Regions from separate parts of the Homo sapiens genome. Here regions 1, 2, 4 and 5 are each reported to be linked to region 3. The links are microRNA targets in miRTarBase. Many come from high-throughput screens and were not tested one by one. Region 3 holds a microRNA gene; each other region holds the end of a gene's coding sequence.

The links. Region 3 holds the annotated microRNA hsa-miR-4695-5p (CAGGAGGCAGUGGGCGAGCAGG, at 3,071-3,092, opposite strand). A microRNA usually pairs through its seed, bases 2 to 8, with sites in the 3' UTR of a target mRNA and lowers its output. Matches are read on the target gene's strand: a 7mer-m8 pairs with bases 2 to 8, a 7mer-A1 pairs with bases 2 to 7 and ends in A, and an 8mer does both.
Region 1: the mRNA of TMEM216 is a reported target of hsa-miR-4695-5p. The part of its 3' UTR that is shown has no 7-base or 8-base seed match.
Region 2: the mRNA of FBXW2 is a reported target of hsa-miR-4695-5p. Seed matches in the 3' UTR shown: 7mer-m8 at 3,267-3,273, 8mer at 3,299-3,306, 7mer-m8 at 4,979-4,985 and 7mer-m8 at 5,011-5,017.
Region 4: the mRNA of KNL1 is a reported target of hsa-miR-4695-5p. Seed matches in the 3' UTR shown: 7mer-m8 at 1,585-1,591.
Region 5: the mRNA of ATOH8 is a reported target of hsa-miR-4695-5p. Seed matches in the 3' UTR shown: 7mer-m8 at 3,799-3,805 and 7mer-A1 at 4,326-4,332.

What each region holds. Positions count from the first base shown.
Region 1 is chr11:61,397,843-61,402,938 of GRCh38, forward strand. TMEM216 (transmembrane protein 216) reads left to right here. Exons shown (of 5, transcript NM_001173990.3): 4 at 1-133; 5 at 428-1,004. The coding sequence ends at 434. CPSF7 (cleavage and polyadenylation specific factor 7) reads right to left here. Exons shown (of 10, transcript NM_001142565.3): 10 at 4,887-5,096. Among named protein-coding and RNA genes, the nearest start is that of TMEM216, 7.8 kb to the left of the region's middle.
Region 2 is chr9:120,760,435-120,765,537 of GRCh38, reverse strand. FBXW2 (F-box and WD repeat domain containing 2) reads left to right here. Exons shown (of 8, transcript NM_012164.4): 8 at 691-5,103. The coding sequence ends at 979. Among named protein-coding and RNA genes, the nearest start is that of FBXW2, 30 kb to the left of the region's middle.
Region 3 is chr1:18,880,180-18,885,282 of GRCh38, forward strand. It overlaps MIR4695 (microRNA 4695), which reads right to left and starts at 3,096; the gene lies at 3,023-3,096. ALDH4A1 (aldehyde dehydrogenase 4 family member A1) reads right to left here. Exons shown (of 15, transcript NM_003748.4): 6 at 3,100-3,249; 7 at 2,945-3,019; 8 at 1,521-1,708. RefSeq lists a silencer at 3,950-4,181.
Region 4 is chr15:40,661,562-40,666,656 of GRCh38, forward strand. It overlaps KNL1 (kinetochore scaffold 1), which reads left to right. Exons shown (of 26, transcript NM_144508.5): 26 at 513-2,781. The coding sequence ends at 627. Among named protein-coding and RNA genes, the nearest start is that of RAD51-AS1, 31 kb to the right of the region's middle.
Region 5 is chr2:85,786,540-85,791,642 of GRCh38, forward strand. ATOH8 (atonal bHLH transcription factor 8) reads left to right here. Exons shown (of 3, transcript NM_032827.7): 3 at 346-4,844. The coding sequence ends at 351. Among named protein-coding and RNA genes, the nearest start is that of MIR6071, 5.4 kb to the left of the region's middle.

The DNA.
Region 1 (5,096 bases), not on the chromosome of region 3:
CCATGATGGCCTCCTATTACCTGCTGCTGCAGACCTACGTACTCCGCCTGGAAGCCATCATGAATGGCATCTTGCTCTTCTTCTGTGGCTCAGAGCTTTTACTTGAGGTGCTCACCTTGGCTGCTTTCTCCAGGTACTGCTGCTGAGGGACCATTTCTCATCACTAGAGGGTTGGGTTCCCATCCCAGGGAGGGATTCAGTATTCTTCTGAAGCCTAAGGGGTCTAGAAGACTTTTTTCTAGAGGGAGGAAGGGGTGGCTATGGGATTGCCTTTCCTGTTTAGGGTAGGTAGATCGTTTCCCACTCAGGGAAGATACTCTCCCTATCCTTTGGGGCCAGGAGGCTTGGAATATAGAACAGTCGAGGCCAGCTGCTCTCATTCACTGGTCTTTTAACATTTTCTTTCTTTCTGCCATCGTATGGACAGGATTTGAAGTACAGAATTTCAGCCAGCAGCCCATCAGGCTGACACCACACATATTGCTTCTGGTACTTTAGCCACACCAGTGAGAATTGGTGGGGCAAGTTGTCCTGAGAAAGGCTGTGTGGCTTTTCTTCAGCACAGACATTTGGGCAAGCAACTCAGCATAAGGCCAGTGGGTACCATCTTCTAAACCAGGACCATCAGCCCAAGAGACTCTTCTACACTCCAGTATAGGGAGGGGCAAGGTTATTCCCATCCTGCCCCTTCTCAGAACCAGTCCCCTGCTGACCTCAAGTTCTCCTCCTTGATCACCGTGGCCAGAGCATCTCGTGTGGACCATCTAGGCTCCTTGGGCTTCAAGCAGGACCTGAGCCACATGCTCCCTGTACGAGCTGTGCTATACCTGTCCCACATGAGCACGGAGAGCCTCATGTTGGTGGGTTTCCAGAGTGATGTGAAAGCCTCTCACCCCAATCCTCGGAGACTGAGTTCCACAACTTTTTTAGTAGCTCATAGTGTTATTTTTCTACTCTCTTCATGAAACTAACTTTATTTTATAATAAATATGTATTTTCTGTTGTGGGGGTTGCAGCCTTTCCTTATGGCACCTGTCCCTAGAATTCATCCACTCCAAGAGAGGGTCATGACTATCCCAGCAGTTTGTTCTCAGGAGCTTTGCTTAGTGATACAGTGTGGACAAAAGGCAGTGATGACCACTGATTTTCTTCCCCAAGCTGCAGCCTAAATTAAACCCTAAATGCACTGCCATCCTCTGTATCTTCAAGTCTCTCGTCATGCAAAAGACTGCTTATTTGCTTCACTCTGCCCCAAAGTCAGCATCTTGTCTCACTCCTCTTACAGATAATTGTTAGCTTTTTTCCAGTGGGCCATGTGAAACTGGAAGAAGCATATTCTAAACTAACTTTTTTTTTTTTTTTAATTTTGGAGACAGTGTCTCAGTCTGTCATCCAGGCTGCAGTGCAGTGGCATGATCTTGGCTCACTGCAACCTCTGCCTCCCTAGCTCACGTGATCCTCCCACATCAGCCTCTCAAGTAGCTGGGACTACAGGCACACACCACCATGCCTGGCTTTTTTTTTTTTTTTTTGAGACGGAGTCTCGCTCTGTCACCTAGACTGGAGTACAGTGGCATGATCTCGGCTCACTGCAACCTCCGCCTCCTGGGTTCAAGTGATTCTTCTGCCTCAGCCTCCCGAGTAGCTGGGAATACAGGTGTGCACCACCATGCCGGGCTAATTTTTTTTTGTATTTTTAGTAGAGACGGGGTTTCACCATGCTGGCCAGGCTGGTCTCAAACTCCTGACCTCGTGGTCTGCCTGCTGGCCTACCAAAGTGCTGGGATTACAGGCATGAGCCACCGTGCCCAGCCCACTAATTTTTGTATTTATTGTAGAGATGGGGTCTTTGTTGCTCAGGCTGGTCTGTAACTCCTGGGCTCAAGCGATCCTCCCGCCTCTACCTCCTAATGTGCTCGGATTATAGGTGTGAGCCACTGCAACCAGCTGATGTTTTTTTTTTTTTTTTTTTGGTCATTTATTTTAGTATTTTGAGGCCTGGCACAGTGGCTTACACTTGTGATCCCAACATTTTGGGAGGCTGAAGCAGGAGGATTGCATGATTCCAGGAATTTGTGACCAGCCTGGGTAATATGGTGAGAACCTTGTCTCTACAAAAAATTTAAAAACAAGCCAGGTGTGGTGATGCGCACCTGTAGTCCCAGCTATTCAGGAGGCTGTGGCAGGAGGATAGCTTGAGCCCAGGAGGTCAAGACTGTAGTGAGCTATGTTTGTACCACTGTACTCCAGCCTGTGCAGGAGTGAGACCCTGTCTCAAAAATAAAATTTTGAGTCAACATAAAAGGAACACTTTTTTTTTTTTTTAAGCTGGAGAACTGTCACTCTAGATCAATGTATACTTTCTTTCTCCAAGTAAGCATCTTTAAAATTATTCCTCATTTCCTTGGTAGTGGCCATGTTTTTTAATTCCAAGAAGCCACGAGGAGCCATGACGGAATCCACTTCAGAAAACCTTGAGGCTCTTCTGTTTTCAGATGAATCCTAGATTATCTGCTCTTACTCGAAGTAAAATGTAACTTTAAGCATTCTATGCTGGCTTTAACTCTTACTTTCTATGATCAAGCTCATTCTTATCCTGAGGGGCTCTGCTGTCCAAAGCACTGATGTTTTTTCTTGTTTCCTACCCCTTCTGTGCCCTTGCCTCCCAGTTGCCCTTGGGGACTATCCAAAAACCAGAGTAGACAGGTCTAATCAGCCATGACACAGTAACAAAACCTTCAATAGGAACTGCCCTGATAATTACAAATCCCACTAATACCAATTTTCTGCTACTTTCTCCCTGTGTTGAAGAAATCGCTGGTATCAAACTGGAAGAGAGCCCATTCTGTATGGCCTATTTAGAGGTTCACTGGTTAAGCTCACTGCCACAGCAATATAAATGATTGGAAGGCTCAATTGGAAGTTGAAGGGTGCCTTATAAAATCCATTAGAATTTAAAGACCTATTTTAGAGATGAACCAAGTCTTACCCCCGACTTTGCAGGCTTAGAGATGAGAAGTGACATAACCAGCACCACACATCTGGTTATTAACAGGTGGAACTAGAAATCTTGCCTTAGGAGTCTGTCTGGATCAAGGAAATTCCATTTCCTCATACTTGAGAATGAGGATGATGGTTGAAAATGAGGCTGTGATTAGGAATAGGAAGTCCTCTCATTTACTGGGTGGTTATGTGGAAGTTTAGTGCATTGTGCTTCCTGTGGGTTGCGTGATAAATGTTCATTTTTCCTGATGCTTGTTGGAACCACCTGTGTAGATGCAGTTAGTCACATAATTAGGACATACAACAGAAACTGAGGCAGTGGAGGCCTGGCACAGTGGCTTACACTTGTGATCCCAACATTTTGGGATCACAGAAATCAGTGTAGCTAGTCTTTCAGATTTATCGTGGCCAGAGGCTGTGCTCACTAGAGTCAAGGGAAGCTGCTTTACAGTCCACACAGAGCTGGAGGTACCAAAATTCTGGGACAGTGGAGAGAACTGAGCAAAGCAACAGGCCCTGGTCATAAGCTTGGCAGAGGCCTGCTCAGCTACTCACACTCATGGCTAGAACCAGCAAGTGACTGCAGTGGTCTCGCCCAGTTTAGGAAGCATTTAGGGCAGATTGATTCTAGCTCCATACCATGGCAGCAGCTTGTGGAGACTACTAATCATCCAGTGCCTGGCAAAGTGTATTTCATTCATATAATGATCCTATGAGGCAGAAGGAAATTAATCAGATGTTAAGTCATGTGTCCAAGGGCATTCAGCTTAGAAATGGAACTGGGATTTGAACCTAGAGTAACCATAAAATCCTTCCTTTTCTACACCACCATGGTACCTCCTAGATGAAGCTGAATTTTGCCTCTAAGCTACTAGTCCTCACAATTTAGTTTACAAGTCATCTGGGGCATAAAAACCAGACACCTAGACCTTATGTAGAGATTGCTACAGCACAGGAACAGGTGTCTTAGCAAGCATGACGTACAACTAAGATGTGGGTTACCATGGAACCCAATTTGAAAGTAATAGTTTTACATTCTAAGGTATTCCAACTATTTTTTTTCCTTAAGTTTCACATCTTGATAGACCCTCTACGGAATCTCTTCTCCTAAAGCTTGTTTTTACAGTGATCTTGCCATTCCTGGTACCATACACATTATCATCTGGTCTGTGGTTCACTTTTTTTTTAAATCATTGAACCCTCCTTCACCTGGCTTTTTAAAGCCAAAAGCTTTTCTGGAGCCCCAAGATCACCCACACTATGTACTTCCTCATATTTAGGCAGTTTACAAAACATTCACATTTGTTATCTCTGACTCTTAAAACATCCCTGTGTAGAAGGCACAACAGCTATTATTTTCATTTTGTAGGTGAAAAAGACCAGGGTTACACTGCTTGTCCATATTTAGATAAACAGGTGGTAAACTAGGCACTACCAGTCAGATCTTCTAACTCCTATCAAAGGATTCTTCCCTTCCTGAACTTGATACTGGAATTTAACTGCACAAGGTAGAACATTTGCTCTGAAAATAAGTCTTAGGAATCTTGAAGGGTAAAGGATAACTTAGAAGTTTTCTTTAACCAGCTGTTTAGATGGCCAAGGAAAAAAGCTAAACCTTAAGGGATGCCTCCAAAGGTTTGCATTAGAGGTCTCTTAGGAGGCTTTCCACAGTCAACTAAAGCCATGTATCACTGCCTGACATGCAATCCTAGCTAAGAACTTGGCATTTCACCATCATTCGAGTGTCTACATCAGCCCATGCCCATGCCCCAGACACCTCAACAAATCTATTCAATGCAGAATCCATAAAACAGCTCACACCCCATTTATTATTTAAAAATATTTTGTTACAAAAGGAAAAAAATACAATGCAGTATAAAAGATTGACAGCGTCATCAAGTTTATTACACAATTTTCAACCTATCAGAAAGACAAACAAATCACCGACAACAGGGGGACGGGACCTTGGCCTTTTTGAGGGATGGGTGTTTTTTTTCCTTTTGCTATCAGGAAATAAAACTAAAAATGGTGTCATTGAGTAAAAACAAAACAAATGGGGAGAAAAAAATTCTCCGGGTAAACGGCATTTCTGG
Region 2 (5,103 bases), not on the chromosome of region 3:
CAAATTGTGAATCCTTAGCCAAAGCATTTACTCTGCCTGAGCTTTGGTTTTCACAGCTTAAAAATAGATTGTTTAGTTAAATGTTATCTGTAAGATCCTTTCTAGCCTGGATAGATGTTTTGTACTTTTATAAACTTTCATCAGGCCGGGTGCGGTGGCTCACGCCTGTAATCCCAGCACTTTGGGAGGCCGAGGTGGGCAGATCATCTGAGGTCAGTAGTTCGAGACCAGCCTGGCCAACATGGTGAAACCTCGTCTCTACTAAAAATACAAAAATTAGCCAGGTGCAGTGGCAGCCGTCTGTAGTCCCAGCTACTTGTGAGGCTGAAGCAGGAGAATCACTTGAACCTGGGAGGTGGAGGATGCAGTGAGCCGAGATCACGCCCCTGTACTCCAGTGTGGGCAACACAGTGAGACCCTGTCTCAAAAAAAAAAAAAAAAACTTTGATCAAACACCACCTTTCCCTTCCATGCCAATATTATATAATGACTGAACGCACCTCTCCCGCTCCCGGCTTTTTTATAAGTGGGCTGAGCTTTTCTCCTTATATTTTACTTTTTATCAAAAACATTTAACTCTAAATTTGCTTGAATTTAATATTGGTTTTAAATATCTCCAGAAAAGATTACAGTAGCATAAACAGAAGCAAGGTTGCCTTCTTTCACAGTCCCTAACTCTCATCCTTGTAGGGTCATCAAGACTCCTGAGATAGCAAACTTGGCCTTGCTTGGCTTTGGAGATATCTTTGCCCTGCTGTTTGACAACCGCTACCTGTACATCATGGACTTGCGGACAGAGAGCCTGATTAGTCGCTGGCCTCTGCCAGAGTACAGGAAATCAAAGAGAGGCTCAAGCTTCCTGGCAGGCGAAGCATCCTGGCTGAATGGACTGGATGGGCACAATGACACGGGCTTGGTCTTTGCCACCAGCATGCCTGACCACAGTATTCACCTGGTGTTGTGGAAGGAGCACGGCTGACACCATGAGCCACCACCGCTGACTGACTTTGGGTGCCGGGGCTGCGGGTTTTGGGTGCAACCTCTGCGGCAGCCGACTGCATGAACCAAAGTTCTCACCTAATGGTATCATCACGCAGTGCACAATCATTTATCTATGTTTTGCCAGGGGCCAGGGCTCGGGGTGGGGGAGGGCTTGTTTTATTGACATACAACGCAGCATGCTAATGGGGTACACCATTGACTTCATTTGTACTTAGTTATGTTGGTCAGTGTTAGAGGATGCATTTTGGGTTCATCTTTCTTGAGTGGAGTATTGGTTTTAAGTAAAGAAAGTTAAATGATCCATTAATCTGCTAATTGGTTGCCTATGAAATCACATTGTCTGTTATTAAAGCTTTTTACCATAGCCTTTTTTTCTTTTGAAGTTGAAGCAAAGGTGCTATGATGTTGTTACAGCAACTTTCCTCACACGGGGTTTAGCTCTTATAAGAGCCAGTGTTAAAACTTCCACCAAATACCAGTTTATAAACTTCCACCAAATACCAGTGCTAAGGAAAGTCTGTCTTCCAGTTCAAATCCAATTCTGTAAATTGAATGTTAGCAACTCATTCTAAACCTTATATCTTGGCAGAGTCAAGGTTGGCCATGTTTAAGATGTGAGCGAGTTCTGTAGTTTTTGTTGCCATGTCGGGGAAGCTAGTCCCCGGCAGCCTGGATGACTGCACAGCGGTGCCCTGGTATAGCAGAAAAGAGCAGTGAGCTGGAAGGTTAGAGACCGGGCCTCTTACCCTGGAACTCTGCACCCTCTCTGGGTCCCAGCTTCCTTGTCTGTACAGCCAGGTATGAAGCTCAGTGATTTCTAAGATTCTTTCTGGTCCTTCACCTACTGAAATGTGTAAAAGTTGATCATGTATTTTTGTCTGATCCCTGATTCATGGTTTCTTTCAGGTCGGATAATATTTAAATGAAATGACTGTTACAGAGTTTTCTATAAGAACATCAATTATATGAAAAGGATGAATAAAAGGGAAATGTAGAAAATATAGCTGATTCCACTTAGACAGTTTAAGTAATTGGTTGAAGAAATGCTGATAGAAGCCATGGTTTAAATAGGGACACAGTATGCTATACTAGAAGGATACCTGAACCCAACCTAACTTCCTCCTTTGCCTCTAACTTAATCTGCAGCCTCAGGCAAGTTAACTTTCTCTTCTAAGACCATCATTTTCTTCATCTTTTAAGTGAGGGAATTGTCCTAGATGAGGGCTCACAAACCCAAATGCCTAAGGGAGCCGTGCAGGTAACATAAATGAGTAAAACATTCTGGGGAGGATTGTGCTGTCCCCTGGAAAGTTGATCTAATAGGGCAGTTATTCAGCTCTGTTTTGTCATTAGGAGAAGCAAGCCCAGGGTTGGCAGGTCTTCACATTGTTTCAGGAGGAGCTAGAAATCCAGATTTTTATTTGAAATCCTGGATTTTTAAAACGTTACAACTGATTAAAGAAAATTTGAAATAAGGTGAGCCAAACAAAACATGTCCCTGGGTTGCCAGATTGTGTCCTCCTCCCTCTCTAAAGTTAGGTAATTTTGTGATTCAGCAGTGGAAATGTTAGTGGTCACAATCAGGGAGAGAGTAGAGGGAGCAAGCAGTAGAAAAATCTCAGCCGCTCTTCAGCTGTCTCCCCTTGTATTACAAGGGTGGTGGGGAGGGATGTATTTCATTCACAGACCAATAGGAAGGTAGTTTGAAGATGAACATAAGAATTGGAACCTCAGTGACAGCTTATGTCTGGGAACATGAGTTATTCCTTCTTGCTGACTCCAGTATAAAGCATATCCATTTTACAGGTGAGAAAAAGGGTTGCTGGCAGAGCTGAGAATGATGTGAACTCTAGAGTGGGGACCTATCTCTTGCAGAATCTGCATTAGCATAGAGCCAGACTCTGGACCTCTGAGTGCTGTGAAGTTGATAGAAATTAATGGTGAATTTCAAGGACAGATATCATTAATATCCATGTTGAAACTCTGTGGGGTTTAAGCAAAAGAACAATATCTTCCCCCATCCCACAAAATCTGGGTTTAATCTATCTCACATTGAGTTCTGTGCATCAGCTCTGCTTAGTACTCTAGAAATAGAACCGGAATCACAACTGAATCTATTTTGCAGAAGCCCCAGGAGACTTTGGGCAATGATGATGGTAAATGACTTTTTACTTTATTATTATTTTTTTTTTTTTGAGACAGAGTTTCGCTCTTACTGCGCAGGCTGGAGTGCAATGGCACGATCTTGGCTCACTGCAACCTCCGCCTCCTGGGTTCAAGTGATTCTCCTGCCTCAGCCTCCTAAGTAGCTGGGATTACAAGCATCTGCCATGACACCCAACTAATTTTTATATTTTTAGTAGAGACAGGGTTCCACCATGTTGGCCAGGCTGGTCTTGAACTCCTGACCTCAGGTCATCCACCTGCCTTGGCCTCCCAAAGTGCTGGGATTACAGGCGTGAGCCACCACGCCTGGCCGAGTTTTTACTTTTTATCGAGCCTGAACAGATAACTATTACTGATCTAATGACCATCCCCACCCTACCTCACTTTCAGATCTATCCAATAGCTTCAAAGGGCAAGTAATTATAATCATTTGTGGGAAAAGTTTTATTAAAAAGTGACAAACTTGAAGCTGTATATAGTATGTTCTATTTCAGTTTTTAGTGGTGAATACAGAAGTCATCAAGGTGGTACTTGGTGCCGCTGGAATTTTTTTTTTTTCCTAGGCAGTCTTGCTCTGTCATACAGGCTGGAGTACAGTGGCATCATCATGCAGCTGGATTTTGACAGCAGAACTTCAGGCAGTAATTGGAGTCCTAATGTCAGTTCTTCCTTATGGAGGCCTTTATTTGGCCTGAGATTTTATTCAACTACTTTATAGATGCTGGGTTTATTCATACTATCGCCAGTTTTTATAAAAATGGAAAACTAGCTCATCCTTTTTGCAAAAGAAAGCAAAGTGGGGAGTCAGAATGAGAAGTGGATAGGGGATAACTAAAACTATTCTTTACTCTCCTTTCATTGCCTTTGAGAGCTAGCTCTTGCACACACTGACTTTGGCTTCCTTAGCGCATAGGTAAGGGAATTGCCTTTCCCTCTTTTGTGAATATTCTCATTTCTGAAAAATTCTAAGTCATGAGAAGATAAGCCCTATCCTTTCTTACAAGGATTGGATTTCTTGGGTGACACTGTGGTGTGGTGGAAGCCAGCGGCTTCTTTCAGGTTCATAAAGGCCATCATAACAACTTCAGGCTTCATGGTGTGGACAGGGATCCAGGAGAGCTGAGTGGATGTGTGAAGTTTCTGATAGATTCTGTCATCATTCCAAAGGAATGTAGTTTCCTCCAGCTCAATCATTTGAAGTAATACACATTGCCAAATCTGACTGTAACCTGACATTTTAGACCTATTGGAGAAATAGGAAGAAAGCCCCTCCAGTGGAAGGACTGGACTTGGAAGAAGTTCTGCAGGAAGGTGCATGCAATTGGATAGCTGTTCATGAGTGAAACGTGGGGAACATTGCTATGAAATTGTAAGGTTTGCACTTCATTTTTCGTAGTTTAAAAATTGCTCTGTTCTGGCTGTTGAAAACACTTGGTGTGAGGTTTGAATGAGGATTATATAATCATTCTAGTATTCATAGGAAAATGATTACTGCTCTCTATTTGTAAAACAAAAGAAATAACTTTCGGAAACAGTATTTTAGACATGAGGAAATTGTTTGTATTAGGCATTTTGATCTAACAGAATCAGCTAAGGATAGTGGATCCTGGCTTTACACATTTCTTTGACCAAACCCAGCTGGCAACTTGAAGTTGTTACTGTGTGGCTTCCAGATTGCCTAGAGGTGAATCCTACCAACATCACTGTTTTTTTTGTTTTGTTTTGTTTTTTTTGTATGTTTTTGAGACAGAGTCTTGCTCTATCCCCAGGCTGGAGTGCAGTGGCGTGATCTCGGCTTACTGCAACCTCAGCCTCCTGGGTTCAAGCGATTCTCCTGCCTCAGCCTCCTGAGTAGCTGAGACTACAGGCGCGTGCCACCACGCCCAGCTATTTTTGTATTTTTAGTAGAGACGAGGTTTCACTATGTTGGCCAGG
Region 3 (5,103 bases):
GCTGCGGGGAAGGGGGTGGCAGAGCCTGGGGCCTGGAAGAGGAGGTAAGAAGGACCCTGAGCTGCAGACCCGGGCGTCTGGCTGCCTCCAGGCATCTCCACCCAGATAACACCCGAAGTGACCAACAGGAGATTCATCTTCCCCCGAGCCCGCTCGCCCTCCCAGGTGCCCATCTTGAACATTCTCGCTGACAACCCCCCTCATCCCCACACGCACCCCAACCCCAACTCCAGGACAGGCAATGGCCACTGTGCCTCCCTGCATCCTTCTCACCTGAACCTGCCCCCTTCTCCACATCCCCCATCTCTCCCCTGGTTCAAGCCCCTACCACCCCTCCCTGGAGGTCAACAGTCCCTGGCCAGTCTCCTGCATCAGGTCACAGAGAGATCACTGAGAATGAGGGTGCCAACACAGGGGCCCAGAGGAGCCAGCAGGGAAAGGAAACAGCGTGGATCAGGTATGCAGGGAGCCAGAGGGCACCCACCCACTTCCAGCCAGTGGTACCACCAGGAAATGCAAGATCAGAGCATCCAGGTCCAGGGGACCAAGACAGGCCAATATTTGGATTTATCTATGAAATTGTCCCAATTATACAAAGTTGGGCCATCACTGTTAGGAGTCAAAGAAAGTAGAGCCTCTTGCCAGATCCAATTTGGGGGCCATTATTTGCAATCTCTGCCTGACACAGAACTCTGACTCAGCCACTCTCCCTGCTTGAAGCCTTCCATGGCTCCCATCACCTTCAGGATAAAGGCCAGACACCTTTGCAGACTCCTAAGTATCTTATGGTCACTGAACCACTCCCTGCCGCCACCTCCAGCCTGAGAGCCGGGACCTTGTCCCTGGTGTGTGCTCACCACTGAGCCTTAGTGTGAGCTCCAAATTTCCTGCTCAGCCAGTGAGTGCATGGATGGTCGAGATCAGGTAGTGGCCTGCCTCCCCTACCTCAACTCAAACCATGCCCTGCCCTCACTCTCTTGCCCTGTCGCCCCCAAACTCCACACTCCAGCCACACAGGATCCTGCCATGCCCCAGAGCACAAGTTTTTGGCTTGGCAACATTGTATGTGCTATTCCCTCTCCCAACATATATATTCTTCTCCTGCCTCTTCCCCTCTGCCTGGCCAACTCCTCTGCTTAGATGTCACCTCCTCCAGGAAGGCTTCCTGACTCCTCCAGTTCATTCTGTGCTCCCCTGTGCCCTTTCCAGTAGCAGAGGTAGCACTGAAATCAATATTACCCACAGCTGTAGGGTGCACTTCCAGTCTGCGAAGCTCTTTCCTGTTCATTAACATGTTTAATCCTTGCAATGACTCTGCAAATTAAGGATAATCACTCCCTGTACAGGTGAAGAAATGGAAGCTCAGAGAGGTGAAGTGGCTCACTCATAGCCACACAGCAAGTAAGGGAGTAGAGTCCGTGCATGACCCCTGGGTTCACAGCCCCATCCCCAGGCAGACAGCAGGTGAGCAGGTGAACGTCCCCTAGCCACCACAGCCTACACCATCCCCAGGGACTTACGGCACACTGCCTGTGAAGTTGATGCCACAGAGGTGCTCTGAGCTGGTGACAGTGTCCCCAAATAGGGGCCCATCAGCTGGCACAAACTGGATGATGTTGGGGGGCAGGCCAGCCTCCCGAAGGATGCGGTAGACAGCATAGCTGGCCAGCATGGCAGTGTCACTGGGCTTCCATAGGACCACGTTGCCCTGCCCGGGAGGTGTTTCAGTGATGCATGAGGATGGCGCCACCAGCCCCCAACCCCCACCCCACCCTACCCTACAGCATGGTTGTCCCTCACCTGGAACCACCAGACTCTGTGCCAACCAGGACATCCCCTACCCGACCCCACTCCTCCAAGGCGTCTGGCCCTATCTCCAAAAGTCCCTGCCAAGGAGGCCACGGCACAGCCCAATCTGCCCCACGCTCTGGCCAAGGCTCCCTTTCCCCAGAAGCCTGCACCAACCGGTCCTGCCATCACCTAGGCAGGTCTGTTCTTACTGCTAGAGTCACTGAGTGCTCACCGGGCGCGGCGGGGCAAGTACACACGGGCTCTCTCAGCACATGTCCTGGGTCAGGCATGTGCAGCAGCCAGGCACGTGGGCGCCTGGCCATGCACCGTGTTTGTCTGTGCACAGATGCATGAGGACGTCCCCATCCATGTCCCTAGTACACACTCCGGCATCAGCATCCAGTGCCCCTGTCTGGGGCTCGGGGTTCCCGACAACTATGTGGACCTCTCCCACCCAGGCTGTCTGGGAGCTGGGCTGCACCTCCCCCACAGGCCTGGGACTTCATCCAGTAATAGCCAACCTCACTCCGATAATGGCAGAGGAGTGACTTGAATACCATCAACCCCGAGAGAGACTACATCCAAATCTTTCTCTGCTCCATCATTTATTTACTAGTCACTCAGTCTTGCCAAGTAAGTCACGGCTGTGTGTCTCAGTTTTGTCATCTGGCAAAGAGGCAGAGTCACAACTCCCTCTCGAAGCTGCTGAGAGGATGAAATGAGATCATCTCCATGCCGTGCTTGACAGCAGCAGGCACGTGGTGAGCACTGAAGGTCAGCGGTAATGATCATCAACAGAGCCACCAACACTCAGCCAGCTCCGGGCCAGCCCTGCCTGCTGCTGGATGTGTCTCATTTGAGCCTCACAACCCAGTCATGGAGGCTTTCCTATTATTTCCACTTTGCAGATGAGGAAACTGTGCCTCAGAGAAGTTCAGGGATTGCCAGGGTCTCCCAGGCAGAGAGGCACGACGCTGGGATTCAAACTGGGTCTCTGGTCCCAAAGCCTACCCACAGCCCCAAGCTGCCTCCACCTTCTGTGCCTCTCCCCATGACTAGGCTGAGACCCAAGGGGCTCAGGGTGGCCTCTGTCTGTCTGTTGGGACCAGGAGGACAACCAGCTGCCGCTGTCCCACCTGTGCCCACATCTCACCATCAGGGCCGGTGCCCCCGCCAGGTTGCCGCCGATTGCAGTGAAGTTAAAGGGCGAGATGGCCGCCACGAAGCCCTGGGGAAGGAGGCAGCGGTGAGATCAGGCCCATGGCATTGGGCTGCCCCGCCTGCTCGCCCACTGCCTCCTGCAGGTACCTCCAGACCCCGGTACACCGTGCTGTTGGTGCTCGGGGGCACGCTGATGGGCTGCTGCCCCTCCAGCTCCACCGCATACTTGGCATTGAACCGGAAGAAGTCGATGAGTTCCGCTGCAGCGTCAATCTCCGCTTGGATCACGGTCTTACCCTGCAAGGCAGAGGGCCGGGGGTCAGGAGCAGCCAACAGCCTCCTGTCCATCCTCTTCTCACATCTGACGCTGTGCCCAAAGCGAGCACTGAGCCGGGCCCCAGGAGGGACCAGGAAACATTTGGAGGGCTCACCAGGTCCCATCCCAGGGGCTGAGGGGGAAAGGATTCTCAAGCCCCTGAGCTAGCACCTCCTGTAGCCGGCCCTCTGGGCTGGACGGGGATCAGAAGAATTTTAGTGATCCTCTGTAGCAGGCCAGGTACTTGCCATGCACTGTCTTCATTTCATAGCAACTCTGAATGGTGGTGCATGGCAAAGGATCTATGGTCAAGCCTCAGACTAAATTCAGGATCAGAGCCTTCCAGACAGAAGGGCAGATTAGCATGAGCTGGAGATTGGTCACTGGAAAACCAGGAGAGAGACTCGGTGTGTGGGAGGTGGATGGCTCCTTCCCCAGGAATGATGTTCGGCCTTGCTGGTTAGTTTGGGCCAAAAACCAAGAGGCGAGTGACTGTGATTCCCTTAAACCGTCAATTCTTAATAACAGCAAATGTGAGCTGCAGGGAAAAGAACTGTGGACAGCCAAGAACGGGGCTTTTCCAGATTGACGTGGCCTCCTCTTGGCACCCAAGGTCACTGGCAGGTGCACGACCTATTAGAGACACACAGCCCATGAAGCTGAGCTAAGATGTGTACCTTGCTTCCTAGAAGTTCCTGAGTCTTAGGCCAAATACAGAGAAAGCCTAAACTGATCCTAGACTGTCTTCCCAGCAACGTGCGGCTCACCAGGAACACGCAGAGCTGACGCCCACCCCAGAGGGCTGCTGAGCCAATCTAAGAAGGCATTTAGCAGGCTGAGGGGCTGTCATACCAGCTCTGTGCAGCAGAGGGGGCGCTCACCATGGGGACCGAGGAGCAGGCAGTGGCAAATGCCTGATCCAGAAAGCAGCCTGGGTTCTGGCTCCTGCAATTTACCCTTCAGGAACCCAGGTTAGTTGGCAGCGTAGGGCTCAGGTCCTGGAGGTGGTGAAATAACCCTTTCTCCCTCGACTCCTGTCCCCCGCACACTCTGCCTGCTAGAGCCACTCCTCACTCAACTTGCATTTAGCAGGGTGAGGAGCTGTCATGCCAGCTCTGTGCAGAGAAAACCATTGATCAGGGGCTTGCTATGCCTCCTGAAAGGTATCATGCAAAGCCCAGAAAAAGACCGAGAATGTCAAGACATGTTTACTATGTCCAAAAAGCTTGTAAAGGGGCAGTACCTAGGAACTCAATACACTCCAGTGCAATCTGAGCTGTAACTGATGCAGGAACAACATGCTCTGGGGAAACAGAGGCAGGAATAGTCCTTTCGGCTGGAGAAGGCTCAGGAAGTCTCACGGAGGGGGTGACATCTGGGCTGGACCAGGAGGTAAGAGTTCACTGAGCACGGAAGAGACAGCAGGCATTCCAGGCAGGAGGACACGTGGGCAGAGGCAGAGAGGATGCCTGCCATGGCCGGGGAGTCCTGCTAAGTGCCAAATGGCTACACTATGGGCAGGACAGCTTGGCAGGGAAATGCAGAGCAGTGGGCGAGCTGGACAGAGGTGGGCAGAAGGGCCCTGGGTATGGGGCTCAGGTCTTGGGACTTGCCTCTCAGTGGTGGAGAGGTCTGGGTGGGTCATAAGCCAGGAGTAACATCCTGGAGGTGTTGGAAAGACCACTCTGAGGGCGGCGAGGGGCTGACCAAGCTAGGAGGCAGGGAGACAGTGCAGGCCACCACCAGTCCAGGCAAAGCATGACAAAGGCCTAGGAGCGAGGACAGAGGGATGGAGGAGAGGGGACATTTCCGAGGCAGGACACATGGGCTCTGCA
Region 4 (5,095 bases), not on the chromosome of region 3:
AAAAGTAGCTAGGTTAAGATACTTCACAATTACATATAGAATTGGTTCTTAGGCCCTGTTTTGGAATCCCATTTCAAACTGGATATCTGGTTATTTCCAGAAATGCTCATTTGTGCTTCCTAGGAAACTGAGAGACCAAGAACATAAATTCCACTGAATTAGAGACAAGTGTAAGATTTTTTAAAAAATTGATTAACCTGGCTGGGCGCGGTGGCTCACGCCTGTAATCCCAGCACTTTGGGAGGCCGAGGTGGGTGGATCACAAGGCCAGGAGATCGAGACCATCCTGAGTAACACAGTGAAACCCCATCTCTACTAAAAATACAAAAATTAGCCGGGCGTGGTGGCAGGCGCCTGTAGTCCCAGCTACTCGGGAGGCTGAGGCAGGAGAATGGCATGAACCCGGGAGGTGGAGCTTGCAGTGAGCGGATTGCGCCACTGCACTCCAGCCTGGGCGACAGAGCGAGACTCCGTCGCAAAAAAGAAAATTGATTAACCTTTGTTCTTTCCAGCCAAGATGATATTGCTACCATTCTATCTAAAGTGCCACTGGAGAACAACTACCTGAAGAATGTAGTCAAGCAAATTTACCAAGATCTGTTTCAGGACTGCCATTTCTACCACTAGACCCTTGGACCACCATTGGAACAACCAAGCAGAATGTACTTGATATTATTTCAGGGTCCCATTGCTGTTCAGCCTTTGTTTTTACGTCATTACAAGCTGAGTAAAATTCCTTCTGATGATGTTATAGTTAATCTGTATGTTTTTTATATCTCTGCAGAATGATGGTGATGAAGTCTGGATGGTAGGCCTCATAGCCTACTATCAACTTACTCATCTTTGTACCAAAGGTTTAAGTAATAGGACACTTAGGAAAAATGTCTCCTAACTAAACTAGTGCTTTCTGCTTTAGTACAAGCCCTAAGGATTAACTTAAGTATAAGAAGTGTTATCACTGACAAGAACATTAGCCATTTTCCCATAACTAGATAGAGCTATGATTTTTTAGGTTGCCTGGCTTCTGCCTAGCAGATATTTCTGGAGTAGAAATGTATCTGTCTACAAACTATTATCCTTTTTCTCCGTTACTAAAATGCTATTAAGAGAAAGTAGGGCTGGGTGCGGTGGCTCACACCTGTAATACCAGCAGTTTGGGAGGCCAAAATGGGTGAATAGCCTGAGTCCAGGAATTCAAGACCAGCCTGGGCAACATGGCAAAACCCCACCTCTACAAAAAATACGAAAGTTAGCCAGTCATGGTGGCTTGCGCCTGTGGTCCCAGCTACTTAGGAGCTTAAGGCAGGAGGATCACTTGAGCCCAGGAGGCAGAGGTTGCAGTAAGCCGAGACCATTCCACTGCACTCCAGCCTAGGCAACAGAGCAAGACCCTGTCTCAAAAAAACAAAAAGAGAGAAAGCAATAGCACTCAGCTATTGAAATGGTTGCCATCTTTTTTTGAAGGCCTTGCTTTTTATTCTATGGTGTCTATTATGTTTTCTTTTTCTTTTTTTTTGAGACGGAGTCTTGCTCTGTCGCCCAGGCTGGAGTGCAGTGGCATGATCTCAGCTCACTGCAAGCTCCGCCTCCTGGGTTCACGCCATTCTCCTGCCTCAGCCTCCCGAGTAGCTGGGACTACAGGTGCCCACCACCATGCCGGGCTAATTTTTTGTCTTTTTAGTAGAAATGGGGTTTCACGATGTTAGCCAGGATGGTCTCGATCTCCTGACCTCGTGATCCGCCTGCCTCGGCTTCAAAGTGCTGGGATTACAGGTGTGAGCCACCACACCCAGCAATGTTTTCTTAATAAGTATAGTTTTTCTAGGGAAAGTTAATTCATTTTTGTCTAGTACATATATGTAAATATATTAATGTTGTTTTTGTGTTTGTGATGTAGTAAGGAGATGTACATAGAAATTCATTGAGGTATATAGATACTCATCTGTCTAGGCAGTTCCCAATTTTCTGAAGAATGTTTTACAGCAAAATTTTCTATTTTCTTTTATTAAATAGTGACACGTCAAACAATGTCACATCCAAAACACTAGTTTCATCAATTTCTAGCAGTAATAATAGACTTGCTGTAAGTATTGTTTTCTGATGCCATACCCTTGTCATACATATTATTAAATGACCAATATTATGTATGAAGTAGACAAAAAAATTTACTCAAACTTCATTCAAATCCTAATTGTGATAATTTTTGTTTTATATTTAATTATAAACCAAAATACATTTGCATTTTTAAGCTAATTTGTCTCAAAATTTTGCTTTATATTTTTGGATCAGGTTAAAGTCCTGTGGATCCCCTGAATGTTATTGTCCCTCTTGATTGGTTTTTACTTCTGAGCTATACGTCAAAAGACACATAAGCTTCAAAAGTCAAGACAAACCTCATTTGCCATAAAAATCAAGATATAGATGTTCTGTTCCGTAAACTCCTTGAAAAACATTTTAAAGTCATCAATATGATCTGTTTCCCATGAAACTTAAGTTAGCTTTCTTATTGGAGTTATTTCTTTTCTGTAAGTCTGAAAAGTAGAGATTTTGTTTTACGCATTTTAGTAACCTGCAACAACCAACTCTAAAAAAGATTTGGCTTGTAATGACGGTCTCTGCTTTTTTGGGTTTGGAGTACACAATTGTAATATTTACTTAGTTATTTGTGTTTTTCTTTGTTCAAGGTATTGACTAGTTTCATAAATTTTTTGAAAGTTTTTCTTTCATTGGTTGGAAAGCAGATTACATTTTGCACTATTAAAATAAGTTTATTACTTTAAATCTTTTGTGAGTAGTGTTTCTTTATAAAGAATATTTTAGCATTTATCCAATAGACCTTTGAAGATATACCAAAGAAACCTTCCTCTGGAGACACCTACCTATTCAAAACTGAGATTAGGCCGAGTTCAAGCAGGGTGCTTCAGGCCAAGAATTCAAATCCAGCCTACACAACATAGCAAGACCCTATCTCTAAAAAATTTTTTTTTCTTGGCTGGGCATGGTGGCTCATGCCTGTAATGCCAACCCTTCGGGAGGCTGAAGTGGGCAGATCACCTGAGGTCGAAAGTTTGAGACCAACCTGACCAACATGGAGAAACCGTGTCTCTACTAAAAATACAAAATTAGCCAGTCATGGTGGCACATGCCTGTAATCCCAGCTACTTGGGAGGCTGATGCAGGAGAATTGCTTCAACCCGGGAGACAGAGGTTGCAGGGAGCCGAGATCGCACCATTGCACTCCAGCCTGGGCAACAAGAGTGAAACCCCCATCTAAAAATTAAAAAATAAAAATTTTTCTTGTTTTTGAGATGTGGTCTCACTATGTTGCCCAGGCTGGTCTCGGACTCCTGGGCTCAAGAGATCCTCCCATCTCAGCTTCCCAAATTGCTGGGATTATAGGTGTCGGTCACTGCACCCAGTTTGCTATTCTTTTTCTAACTTCTTGTGATGGTAGGTACCTAGCTCATTTATTTTCATTCTTTTTTTTTTGAGACGGAAGTCTTGCTGTGTCACCCAGGCTGGAGTGCAGTGGCCTATCTCGGCTCACCAAAACCTTCGCCTCCCAGGTTGAAGCGATTATCTTGCCTCAGCCTCCTGAGTAGCTAGGATTACAGGCGTGCACCTCCACACCCAGCTAATTTGTGTATTTTTGGTAGAGACAGGGTTTCACCATGTTGGCCAGGCTGGTTTCAAACTCCTGACCTCAGGTGATTCATCCACCTCGGCCTCCCAGAGTGCTGGGATTACAGGCATGAGCCACTGTGCCCAGCCTATTTTCATTCTTTTAACAAGTACTTATGATATATTTCTTTTCTTTTCTTTCTTTCTTTTTTTTTTTGAGGTAATCCATCTGCCTCTGTATCCCAAAGTGCAGGGATTACAGGCGTGAGCCACCATGCCTGGCCCCATATATTTGTTTCTAAGTAATGTTGTTTATCACTCATTCTTCTCCTAATCTGTTTTTTTTTTTTTGTTTTTTTTTTTTTTTTTAATATTTATGTCTTTTTTTGTTTGTTTGTTTGAGAGGCCAAGTCTCACTATGTTGCCCAGGCTGGTCTCAAACTCCTGAGCTCAAATGATCTTCTCGCCTCAGCCTCCCAAAGGGCTGGAATTACAGGCCTGAGTCATTGTGCCCAGTCTCAAATATATATGTCTTTTTTGGTCAATAAGAAAGTGAGATTATTACTGTTTCTTAGAACATGACTTCATAACAGAGCTCAGCCCCAAAGATCCAGATCAGACTTGAAGAACAAGAGTTTGAAGGTGATTGCTCCACAAATAAAAAATACTTGTGGGGCAAGAGATTGATTCCAGCATTAATATGTTTGCTTCTAAAATTTTTTCTTTCTTTTTTTTAGACAGGGTCTCTCTCTGTCACTCAGGCTGGAGTGCAGTATCACGATCATGGCTTACTGCAGCCTTGACCTCTCTGGGCTCAAGCGATCCTACCATATCAGCCTCTCGAATGGCTGGGACTACAGATGCACACTACCACCCCCAGCTAATTTTTGTGGAGATGTGATTTCAACATGTTGCCCAAGATGGTCTCAAACTCCTGGCTCAAGTAATCCACCCACACTGGCCTCCTAAAGTGCTGGGATTACAGGTGTGAGCCACCACAGCTGGCCTAAAATTTTCTTCAGTTCTAAAGTTTGTGAAAAGCAACAGTAAGGCTGGGCACGGTGGCTCATGCCTGTAATCCCAGCACTTTGGGAGGCCGAGGTACAAAGATTTCATGATATATAAACTGATTCTGTCTAAAATCTGTTTTTATGCTAAACTTAGTATCACATATAATTATTTTTAAAAATTTTTAATCACCTTATGTTATCCTATACTAGATTTTATTCATTCTATCTAACTGTATTTTTGTGCTTCATCACTTGAGGTCGGGAGTTCAAGACCAGCCTGGCCAACATGGTGAAACCCCATCTCTACTAAAAATACAAAAATTAGCTGGACGTGTTGGCACATGCCTGTAATCCCAGCTACTTGGGAGGCTGAGGCAGGAGAATTGCTTGAACCTGGGAGGCGGAGGTTGCAGTGAGCTGAGATGGCGCCACTGCACTCCAGCCTGGGTGACAGAGTGAGACTC
Region 5 (5,103 bases), not on the chromosome of region 3:
CCTCTGAGATCCCTCAGAGGGGTGGCCCTGGGGATTGTGGTGTCAGCCCCAGGTGTCCCCGAGCTTCCAGCGGCCCTGGCTCCCACTACCCACTGTGGTCCTCTTCTTTCCCCAAACCAACCAAAACGCAGGGCCTCTGAAATGCAGCACTAAGGAACAGGGGGACAGTGTGGGCTCTGGAGGCAGCCAGGCCGGGGTTTGAATCCTGGCTCTTCCACTTATCGAACCCTTCAAGGTGGGGGCCCCTCTGCCTGGAGGACTCAGTGAAGGGACATTCTGCAGCTGTCCAGAAACAGGAACCAGGTGGAGCAGGGGCAGCTTTTAATGGCTGGTCATGTCTTTCAGGAGTGACTGGCTGCAGGCAAGACCAAGGCCACCACTGTGGGCCCTCCTTCCAGTCAGGCCTGAGGACAAGGTGAGCTCGCTGAGTCCAGCCTCGTGGTCTTCTCCAAGATGCCGCCAGATGCCCAGCCTACAGCCTCTCAGGGTCGGATCGGAGCACGCCTGCCTCCCTCTCCCCTCCGCCCTCACCCAGCCAATCCGAGGCTGCTTCGCACTTTGCCCTCTGCCTGGTGGGGAGGGGAGAGCTCAGCCCCCGACTCACTCAGACCCCAAGGCCCACTGTCCAGCTGCAGAAATTCGTTGCCAAAGATTGGACAGAGACACCGAAGGAAATGGGGTGGTGAAACCCCACAGCGAAAAGCCACACCGTTGCTCTGTGACTTTTGCTCCTCCTGTTGCCTGAGCCCCATCTCAAGCCAAAGATGAGTCAGTGGTTCTGCTAGGAACTCATGGAATGGATGGGCATTTGATGACCCCTGGGGGTCATCTTGGCCCTCTGACCTGGTGCTCTCTCTCCACTGGGCCTTGTGCTGGCTGAGTGCAAGACAAGCCTTAGGGGCTGTGAGAGGGAGGCTGGGGTGCCTGGGCGGGGCTGGGAGTGGGACCTGAGATCCCTGCCCACTCTCTCCCCTTCATTGGCTGCCCAGGCCACTGGCCCCAGTTCTCAGTGTCCCTTGGGTCCAGGCTCCTTGGGCCCTAAGCATCACCAGAAGGGAGTAAGCAGGGAGAGAAGCAATATTACTCCCTCCCCTACACCAGGGACTTGCCCCAGGGCAGCTACCTATGGGTCTTTGCTTCCCCAGCCAGCCTCTCCTCACTGTGACCCACCCCCATGGGCCCCCGTCCCAGGCAGCCAGCACCATGGGCAGGCCCTGCCATGGACAGAAAAAGAGTTTTTCTCTTGTTCAGCCTGCACGTGGCCTGAGGAAGGAGTAGAGGCTGGGTTGGCTGGAGCCGTCCTACTGGGCAAGATGGCGCCCCACTTGGAGGGCGGTGGTCTGTTACAGGGTGTGCAGGGGCAGAGAAGGAAGGGACCAGGGGACTGGGCCAGTATGTGGAGGATGGGGCCTGCGTGTTCAAAGCCAAGGCCCGCCCCTTCCTTGTGCTCAAATGGCCAAAGCTGTTCACGTCTGTGCTCAACCATCTGCTTCAAATTGAAGTAAAAGCCCCAAAATGTCAAGAAAATACTTGTGTTGAGTGGACTCTGTGGGTGACCAGGACTTTGGCCGGTCATCAGCTGGGGAGTGTGAGGGAGGGGGTTGGTTTCTACCTACAGGTTGAGAGCCCTTCAGGATCAGGCGCTGTCCGAGTGAGAGTGTGTGTGTCTGTGTGTGGAAGGGGGTGGAGGGCGGTTCCCACAGTAGTCTCAGCCTGGACTAGTGACCAGGAGGCCTGGTCAGGAACACATGAGGAGCCCTCTCTGTCCGCACTGCACTCAATCTGTACCATGGATTTATGAGATAGGGGCCCCTATTATTAACCCCGTTTCACAGATGGGGTAACTGAGGCCTCAAGTAGACAGGGTCAGTCGGTGACAGAGCCAGTCATCGAATCAGGATGGGCTCACTTCAAATCCTGTGCTCTCAAACCTTTTCCAGCCCCATCACCAGTCCCAGCCCAAAGTCTCTTGTGTGGCCTTGTCACATTGCTTCACCTCAGCGGGCCTAAGGTAGGGACAATAAAGGCCCATTGGGACTGGGGGAAGGGGTGATAAGATAAAAAATAGGAGAGCACTGTCAAGGCAGAAGGGACAGGGCTGGCCAAGGAAAGGGGGATAGGAGGGGACCGGAGGCTGCAGCCATACAGGACACAGTTTGTCCCTTGGTTTCACCAGTGTCACTTTCTCGTCTCTGCTGCTCAGACTCCTGGGCTGGGCTGGGGCTGGCTGCAGGGAGCCCCCCTTGCAGTAGCGTTTCTCAGGCTGGCCCTTTACCAAGGACCACAGTGTCCATGCTGTCTTGGATCCCTAGGCTGGCACAGAAACAGGGGACCCAGGTGGCCCTGAGCACTCCTCAGAGCAAAGGTGCTCTGGAAGCAGACTGGACAGAGTGGGCATGGAATGGGGCCAGGAGGGTCTGTTAGGAAGGTTCAGCCACCCTGTGAAGCTGGCACAGATAACAGCACTGCTCTGTTGTCCCTCGGAGCCTCTGAGTAACCCTGATGGCACTTCCTAAGGCAGCAGGACATGTGGACTGACCAGCATCAAACTGTTGACATAGAAGACCATTTCTATTACCAAAGGGAGTGTACCCCATTCTGCTGCCAAGGGAGCAAACCCATGGCCTTACCACCCAGAAAGAGCCCATCCTCCACCTCCCATCCCCCTCCTGCATACATACTTCATTACATGTTTCCCTTTCATTCTGAAGCATCATTGATGACCAGCTGCCTGTCAGACACTAAGATAGGCAGTGGGAATGAAGAGATGGATCTTGTGTCATGCATGGCATCACGGAGCTCTGGGTTCTGTACGGAGGGTGGGACAGACAGGTAGACAAGCAAATAATTATGATTATAGCAGATGACTAAGGTGTTGTCGGGAGCTTCAGGAAAGGAAGAACTAACTCTTGGGGAGGTTCTCAGGAAGGATTTCCCTGGAAAGTAGCCATGGGACTTGCGTCTTAAATGGTGAGTAAAAGCTTTCTGAGCAGGGGAGTAGGAAAAGGGCTTTCTATGCAGAGGAGCACTCAGCGCTGGCAGGAAATTGGAATCACCCAAGGAGATTATTAAATATTAAATATTGATATGAAGTATTGATGCCCAATTTCATCTCCAGAAATTCTGATGTATTGGTCTAGGGTGTTGCCTGGTCATTGGGATTTTTACAAGCTCCTCAAGTGATCTTAATGTGCAGGCAAGGTTGAAGCCGCTGGTCTAAGTGGGGTCTGGTCTACGATAAGAAAGTGACTTTGAGCCATCGATTTGGGAGACAGGCTCTGGGTGGATGTGTGTGTGTGCACACATATGTATGTATGTGGATGACTAAAAGTGCATGCTCTCCTCTCCTTTCCCAGCTTCCTCTCCAGCACAGCAACTTGTGTTCGTATGCACACACATGCATACTCTCTCTCATGGGCACATGCATACCCACACACACACTCGTGTACATTTCCAGAAAATGGAATTACATTTCAGATAGATTCAGATTCCAACGGCAGTCTTCTAAACACTTTTATGCAAGCAGCCATTCAAGGAGACCCTCAGCAAAATATAAATGACGAGGAGCTGCCCTCATGGGGCCCTGTGAAAGCACTTTGCAGTCCAGCCTTGGGTTTGTGGTCACAGAGTCACCTGTGGATGTTTGTAGCACACTCTCCTTGTCTTGTCTGCTCTGGGTCACCAGGCACAGGCCATAAAGGGATGAGGGGGCCCTCTCCAGGGACCCGCAAGATCTTCCTGGGTATGTCTGCATGAAGCCCCACGTGTGCACACCCATCTTCATGTGTGTGTGTGCCAGCCTCCTGCTCTCTGCAGAACAAAACCAGAAGGAATGGCTCTGGGAGTTGGAGATCTCAGCTCACAGGCCAAGCTTTGCAAGACTCTCCAAAGACTGCCCACAGACTGTGCTGCTTCCTGGGTCTGGCCTGAGACTATCCCAGAAGAGAGGGTTAAATTCTGGAGGTGAGGTTTTGAGCAAGTGTTCATCCCCCCACACTATGCTCCTTCCTGTCTCCATGGCCACATCCTTCAAGGCTCTGTGCTGTTCTCTTTTTTTCTGGATTTCTCCACCTCCACCAAGTTCCCCTTTCTCACAGCTAGTGGAGGCATGAGTAGGCAGGTCCCAGGGGCTGGGAACTGGGTAGCATTGCCATGTGCAGGGACTGTGTTGGGAGCTGCAGGTACAGAGCTCCTCTGTGCTCAAGAGCTTGCCGGTGAGCCTGGACGGAGGCATAGGTGCAGCTAATTAGGATAAGACAGGGGCCGCGCTGTGGTCAGCCGTGGGAAGCCGGCGAGGGGACTGGAGTTGGGGCTACACTTGCCTCCCTCCTATGCTGCTTCCTGAGCCACGAAGTGGTCATTGCCAGCATCCCAGGCAACAAACAGCAAGACTCAGACATCTCCAAGGAAACCCTTTGAGTGGATCTGTACCGTTGTTCTCGTCTTGCTCTCTTGCTGCCCTGCCACCTTCACAGCTGCTTTCTGTTTCCTGGTTCCAGGAAGACAGCGGGGCACAGGGTCCCTGCTTTGTGAGGAGCAGCTGGCTTCTCCCTTTGCCCCCAGGTTTTGCCCTCCCACATGTCTCCCTTCTGGTGACCCGGACCCCAGACAAACTATGCCTGCCTCCCTGAAGCCAGGCATCCTGAGGAACTTGATAGACAAACAATGACAGTGTTTTCCAGAACTGTGGGTACGTGTCTAATCTCAGATGGTACTATGAATTCCTGGAGATCAAAGTTTGGATCTAATTCAACCCCTGATCCTCGAAACGGCTTTCTTGCAAAGTGTATATATTGGTTTCTTTGCTGAATGAATGAATAAAACATGGAAAATGTGGTAATTCACTCATTTTTGTTTTCTTCCTTCCACAAATAACTCCCAAGCATCTAATTTGTTCAAGACCTGGGGAAAACAGGACCCAGGCCAGGTGATCTTTTATATGGCTTCGGAGAGGCTTGAAGGGAGAGGGGCTTAGAGCCGAGAGAAGCCTGGCCTTGGACCTTTTTGCTCTTTATGTGGCCGAGTCTTTGAGAACTGAGCGAAGAGGACAGCATCACAGCACACGTGCTGGCACACAGGCACTGAATGAACAGTTACTGAATG